Linked DNA regions of Homo sapiens. The protein of the gene in region 1 purifies or fractionates together with the protein of each later gene. This does not show direct contact. Each region holds a gene or a part of one and is shown in the gene's direction. Other genes may lie near its edges.

Region 1 (3,751 bases):
AGCTGTTAAAGATGACACTGCAGGCCAGGCACGGTGGCTTACGCTTGTAATCCCAGCACTTTGGGAGGCCGAGGTGTGTGGATCACCTGAGGTCAGGAGTTTGAAACCAGCCTGGCCAACATGGAGAAACCCCATCTCTACTAAAAATACAAAAAAATTGGCTGGGCGCGGTGGCTCACACCTGTAATCCTGGCACTTTGGGAGGCTGAGGCGGTTGGATCACAAGGTCAAGAGATTGAGGCCATCCTGGCCAACGTGGTGAAACCCCGTCTCTACTAAAAATACAAAAAAATTAGCTGGACATGGTGGAGTGTGCCTGTAATTAGCTACTAAAAATACAAAAAAATTAGCTAGACGTGGTGGTGCATGCCTGTAATCCCAGCTACTCGAGAGGCTGAGGCAGGAGAATTTCTTGAACCCTGGAGGCGGAGGTTCCAGTGAGCCGAGATCGCGCCACTGCATTCCAGCCTGGGCGGGGGAGCAAGACTCTGTCTCAAAAAAAAAAAAAAAAAAAAAAAAAAAAAATTAGCCAGGCGTGGTGAAACCCCATCTCTACTAAAAAATATAAAAATTAGTCAGGCGTGGTGGCGGGTGCCTGTAATCTCAGCTACTCAGGAGGCTGAGGCAGGATAATCGCATAAACCCGGGAGGCAGAGGTTGCAGTGAGCCGAGATCGCACCAGCGCACTCCAGGCTGGGTGACAGAGTGAGACTCTGTCTCAAAAAAAAAAAAAAATTACACTGCAAAAGGCTCCAAAAAATACAGAAACAAACAAGGAAGAGACAGGAACGTGCATCTCATCTGGCAGTTTTCTGAGCCTCTTCTTGGAGCCTCACGCAGTGGTCGCCTTGAATGTATCAAAATCCATTGTGGTTTAAATCTCGGAGGCATCTGGGAGGCAGTGAGGACGGCTCTCACCTCCCCGCTGTCCTCGCCGCTGCCCCAGGGCCTCTGCACGGCTGCCTCCTCACCTGCTTTGGGACTGTTCAGTTTTACCTTCTCCGTGGGGCTCACCCACACCCACACTGCTACCCTGGGCCCCAAACCTGTCTGCGTTTTCCCTCACGTTCAGTGCCTCCTCATACACCAGACTGTGTTCACTTATCACATTTACTGACGACTTTCTCTCTCCCATCCTGAGAACATCTCCTTCTTTTCCGTCTGTTCGTGTCCAGTTCTCACCACCCCCAACAGAGGCTGGTACACAGTAGGTGCCCAGTACATGCTTTGGCAGGAATGAGTGACAGGATGAGGCAGTGAATGCTTCTTGGCTCAGAGCTGAAACTCCCAGAGTTGTGTACTTGCTGTATGACCTTGGGCTGTGCCTCAGTTTCCCCAGGTGTAGAAACGGGGCCACGCCACCCACGACCCCGCCAGGCCCTCCTGCTGCAAGGCTGTGGGTGTCATGTTTGCAGGTCTAGTTCCCTGGGGCCGGCCCTGGCCCCAGCTGCCCAGCTCTGCCGGCTCCCGGGAGACGCACTCTGCTGACACCGGACTCTTTCCTGGACCATCCAGCCGCCTGGCCGACACTCGATCCCGGCCCCACTTCCAGGCCAGTGTCCGGCCGACCAGCCTGCCTTGGGCCAGGGCCCCACGACTCCCTGCTGCGGGACAAGAGGCCGTCTGTGCGGCTGTGGTCGTGGGAGGGTGTGGTGAGGCCGTGAAGGTGGGGACGGTGCCTGGGCCTGTGGCCGCCAGAGCTGCTGCGGCTCAGAAGGTAGCACCAGGCCCCGTGGGTGCTGTGGGGGCCATCGCCTGCCCACCATGGGGACCCTCAGCTGCGACTCCACCCCACGGCTGGCCACAGCCCCCCTTGGCCGGCGAGTGACGGAGGGCCAGATTCCGGAGACCGGCCTGAGGAAGTCCTGTGGGACGGCCACCCTGGAGAACGGTGCGTGCCAGCCGTGGGGGATGGGTGGGACCTTTTCCTGCTCCACTCCCCATACTTCTGGGGCTTCTGGAATGTTCTGGGAGCCCAGCAGGAGGCAGGAGTTTCAGGCAAGTCCTTGCCCTTCCCCAGACCTCAGTTTTCCTTCCGGCAGGATGGGTGTGGACACGGGGTTGCCGTGAGCCCCGAGTATGTGTCTGTCCAACGGAAGCTGCGTGCTTTGCCAGCCGGGTCCCCTTCCAGGGGCTGTGGGTACAGCAGTGGGCAAAGCCACAGCGATCATGCGGGAGACGCGGGGAGGAGGGAATATTTCCAGCGTGGCCCTCAGGGACGGGCGCCCTAGACAACGTGGGGCAGGGCGAGGGGCGCGTGTGCGGAGGCGGCTCTGCTGGGAGCCACATCAGCTGCTGGCCTCGGTGAGGGCCCAGGACGGGCCGCAGTTTCCTCACCCACAATTAGCGGCTGGAGTCAGGCCCCAAGCCAGGTCCTCGGGCTGGTTCTGTGGTCTCTCCTGATCCCTGTGGCATCGAGATTCTGCAGAAGCCACAACACATGGCGTCTGTGACCGTGTATCTCTGGGAGGCTCAGGCCTCAGTCTCCCCATCTGTGATCGTGTATCTCTGCCTGGGCCTCAGTTTCCCCATCTGTGACCGTGTATCTCTGCCTGGGCCTCAGTTTCCCCATCTGTGACCGTGTATCTCTGCCTGGGCCTCAGTTTCCCCATCTGTGACCGTGTATCTCTGCCTGGGCCTCAGTCTCCCCATCTGTGACCGTGTATCTCTGCCTGGCCCTCAGTTTCCCCATCTGTGACCGTGTATCTCTGGGAGGCTCAGGCCTCAGTCTCCCCATCTGTGATCGTGTATCTCTGCCTGGGCCTCAGTCTCCCCATCTGTGATCGTGTATCTCTGCCTGGGCCTCAGTTTCCCCATCTGTGACCATGTATCTCTGCCTGGGCCTCAGTCTCCCCATCTGTGACCGTGTATCTCTGGGAGGCTCAGGCCTCAGTCTCCCCATCTGTGACTGTGTATCTCTGCCTGGGCCTCAGTTTCCCGATCTGTGACCGTGTATCTCTGCCTGGGCCTCAGTCTCCCCATCTGTGACCGTGTTTCTCTGCCTGGCCCTCAGTTTCCCCATCTGTGACCGTGTATCTCTGGGAGGCTCAGGCCTCAGTCTCCCCATCTGTGATCGTGTATCTCTGCCTGGGCCTCAGTTTCCCCACCTGTGACCGTGTATCTCTGCCTGGGCCTCAGTTTCCCCATCTGTGACCATGTATCTCTGCCTGGGCCTCAGTCTCCCCATCTGTGACCATGTATCTCTGCCTAGGCCTCAGTTTCCCCATCTGTGACCGTGTATCTCTGGGAGGCTCAGGCCTCAGTCTCCCCATCTGTGACCATGTATCTCTGCCTAGGCCTCAGTCTCCCCATCTGTGACCGTGTATCTCTGGGAGGCTCAGGCCTCAGTCTCCCCATCTGTGACCGTGTATCTCTGGGAGGCTCAGGCCTCAGTTTCCCGATCTGTGACCGTGTATCTCTGCCTGGGCCTCAGTCTCCCCATCTGTGACCGTGTATCTCTGCCTGGGCCTCAGTTTCCCCATCTGTGACCATGTATCTCTGCCTGGGCCTCAGTTTCCCCATCTGTGACCATGTATCTCTGCCTGGGCCTCAGTCTCCCCATCTGTGACCATGTATCTCTGCCTAGGCCTCAGTTTCCCCATCTGTGACCGTGTATCTCTGCCTGGGCCTCAGTTTCCCCATCTGTGACCGTGTATCTCTGCCTGGGCCTCAGTCTCCCCATCTGTGACCGTGTATCTCTGGGAGGCTCAGGCCTCAGTTTCCCCACCTGTGACCGTGTATCTCTGGGAGG
Region 2 (3,651 bases), on another chromosome or scaffold:
TTTAATTTCTCCCTTCAACTTTTGGTTTTTCAAAACTAGATCAAAGCAGAATGGAAAGAGAAACCTCATCACTGATATCAAATAAGTGTTCTAATTTTGTTTCCCAATTAAATGGCAATTAAAAAGAAACTAATCAAGAGCTGCTTCAAAGAGAAGAGACTGGAAAGCAGAAGAAATGGAAAGTAAATGAGAGCCTATTTCAGGGACTCGCTGCTCATGGCACAGCAGTTTTGCTGATTTTTCACATTGTTCAACTAATATGCTCACGCTAAAATTCCCCAGCTTTACTAAGTTGGCAGTTAACCCTTTCCCTATAGAGCCCATAGATTTATGAGCCATACATTTAGTAACTTCAGGAGGATGCTTCTTTAACTCTTTCTCTTCAGCTTTTTATCTGAAATCTCTACCCTTCAGGCCTCTCTTCCAATTCCTCAAAGAAGATGTCCTTGTGATTGTTACATTTAAGGGACAAAAATATGGTGTTCTCTATTGAGAGCGCCAAAAATACTAAACCGGAATTCCTCCATAGGCTCAGTATTTGCCTCAAAAATGTCCCAGCACTTTGAGAGGCTGAAGTGCGCAGATCACTTGAGGTCAGGAGTTCGAGACCAGCCGGGCCAACATGGCAAAACCCCATCTCTACTAAAAATACAAAAATTAGCTGGGCGTGGTGGCACACACCTGTAGTCCCAGCTACATGGGAGGCTGAGACAAGAGAATCACTTGAACCCGGGAGGCAGAGGTTGCAGTGAGCCCAGATGGCGCCATTGCACTTCAGTCTGGGCGACAGAGAGAGCCTCCATCTCAAAAAAATAAACAGAACAACAACTTTCTAGAGCTGCTCTCTTGAGAGACAACTGAGGAGTCACTATGGTTAAGTGTTTAGTAAATGTTACTATTATTACTACGTAGTGGGCATTGTGCTAAGCCCTTTACTTGGATTATATCCTCCATGATTTCACTTATGAAGACTTTAGCGATTTTTGTTTGTTTGTTTCTTTTTTTGAGTCTCACTCTGTCGCCCAGGCTGGAGTACAGTGGCACGATCTTAGCTCACTACAACCTCTGCCTTACAGGTTCAAGCAATTCTTGTGTCTTAACCTCCCAAATAGCTGGGATCACAGGTGTGCACCACCATTCCCGGCTAATTTCTGTATTTTTAATAGAGACACGGTTTTGCCATGTTGGTCAGGCTGGTCTCGAACTCCTGGCCTCAAGCAGTCCACCTGCCTTGGCCTCCCAAAGTGCTGGGATTATTACAGGCGTGAGCCACCATGCCTGGACTTTAGTTTTTTGTTTTTTTGGGTTTTTTTGAGACAGAGTCTCACTCTGTCGCCCAGGCTGGAGTGCAGTGGCGCGATCTCGGCTCACTGCAACCTCTGCCACCCAGGTTCAAGCGACTCTCCTGCGTCAGCCTCCTAAGTAGCTGGGATTACAGGTGCCTGCCACTGTGCCTAACTAACTTTTGTAGTTTTAGTAGAGACGGGGTTTCACCATCTTGGCCAGGCTGGTCTTGAACTCCTGACCTCGTGATCCATCCTCCTTGTCCTCCCAAAGTGCTGGGATTACAGGCGTGAGCCACCATGCCTGGCCAGACTTTATTTTTTATTATTTATTTATTTATTTATTTATTTATTTATTTTTGAGACAGAGTCTCGCTCTGTTGCCCAGGCTGGAGTGCAGTGGCGTGATCTTGGCTCACCACAACCTCCACCTCCCAGGTTCCAGTGATTCTCCTGCCTCAGCCTCCTGGATAGCTGGGACTACAGGCACATGCCACCACGCCCAGCTGATTTTTGTATTTTTAGTAGAGATGGGGTTTCACCATCTTGGCCAGGCTGGTCTTGGAACTCCTAATCTCGTGATCTGCCCACCTCAGCCTCCCAAAGTGCTGGGATTACAGGCATGAGCCACCACTGCGCCCAGCTAGACTTTAGTTTTTATAGTGAGGCTTGAGATTTGCATCTCCACTGGTCTCTTTGACATCTCAGAGGATCCATTCTGAACTTGCTAGGTTTCTTTCCCCTGCTGAATTGAGTTCTGCATCTTGAGTCTGCAGCAGTGTGAATCCTATCTTTGGCTCCATTTAACAGCCTATGGACGTTCCCAAACTTGGGACCCAGTTTGTCTCTTCATGATAGACAAATATTATTTTCAGAAGTCATTCTAATCGCACCACTGCACTCCAGCCTGGCAACAGTGAGACTCCATCTCAAAAAAAAAAAAAAAAGTCATTCTAGTAGGTGAGATTTCTGCCAGCATTGAGCCACTGCTCAACATATTCTTGATAATGGTCTCTGAACAGCATTTGATTTTACCTTGGAGTTGCAAAGTCAAAGTCTAACTCGCCAAACAAACTCAGTGTGGAATATACACATTTGTCTCATTCCGGTTTTAAGGAGTTTAGTATACCAGAGCTTTTGTGACCTCTAAAAAGCAGTTATCGTCCATGACAAGAATTGGCTCGTTCACCCTCAGTACTCTGGCTTACTATCCCAGGGAGGGCCGAGGGTGGCAGCAAAAGTGGTCTTTTGTAATCCCTTTTTATAACCTGCTGTTCTCTTCACAGACCTCCCAGGGTACCTTTTTTTGTGTGTGTGTGTGTGAGATGGAGTCTCACTCTCACCCAGGCTGGAGTGCAGTGGCGTAATCTCGGCTCACTGCAACCTCTGCCTCCTGGGTTCAAACTATTCTCTTGCCTCAGCCTCTCAAGTAGCTGGGATTACAGGCACCCGCCACCATGCCTAGCTAATTTTTATTTTTTATTTTTGAGACAGAGTCTCGCTCTGTCACCCAGGCTGGAGTACAGTGGCGCGGTCTTGGCTCACTGCAAGCTGCGTCTCCCGGGCTCACGCCATTCTCCTGCCTCAGCCTCCTGGGTAGCTGGGACTGTAGTCGCCCGTCACCACGCCCGGCTAATTTTTTGTATTTTTAGTAGAGACGGGGTTTCACCGTATTAGCCAGGATGGTCTCGATCTCCTGACCTCATGATCCGCCCACCTCGGCCTCCCTAAGAGCTGGAATTACAGGCGTGAGCCACCGCGCCTGGCCAATTTTTGTAATTTTTAGTAGAGAAGGGTTTTGCTATGTTGGCCAGGCTTGTCTCGAGCTCCAGACCTTAGGTGATCTGCCCGCCTTGGCCTCCCAAAGTGCTGGGATTACAGGCATGAGCCACTGTGCCCAGCCCCAGGGTACCTTGATGGCAGTACTAAAGTGTTTTTATTTTTCCCATCATTTGGGATTCACAAGCAGTTTTTGATATAACTAATTGGTGGGAATGTGCGGAGTTGGGGGTATTGCACTGAGTGATCCTTAGCCGCAGAAGTACAGAGACTAGACAGCTGATACTGATTCATGCCATGTCATTTCCTTCTGGGCATCTTTGCCATTTCATTCACCTCTCTTTGGTCTTTCTGAGTACTAATAGGATTATTAGTGAACTTACCATACTTCAAGAGTTAATTGATTTGCAAAAGGATTTCCTGATGTCTAAAAGTAGAATCAAAAGGATATTAGAGGTTAGAGTTTATTTTAATAAGTTTCTCTGGAAAATTTGAATTTCTGCCCAAAAAATTCATTTTTTATTTGAGACAAGGTTTCACTCTGTCACCCAGATCGTAGTGCCATGGTGCAGTCCTCCTACTTCAGCCT

Evidence for each region.
Region 2: the proteins of CIMAP1D (region 1) and NMT1 purify together in Homo sapiens (affinity purification with mass spectrometry; 3 studies listed by BioGRID and IntAct, with this or other methods). This does not show direct contact.

What each region holds. Positions count from the first base shown.
Region 1 is NC_000019.10:472,761-476,511, reverse strand, and holds the start of CIMAP1D (protein CIMAP1D), read left to right. Parts: upstream 1-1,528; 5' UTR 1,529-1,764; coding exon 1,765-1,891; intron 1,892-3,751.
Region 2 is NC_000017.11:45,067,666-45,071,316, forward strand, and holds part of NMT1 (glycylpeptide N-tetradecanoyltransferase 1), read left to right. Parts: intron 1-3,651.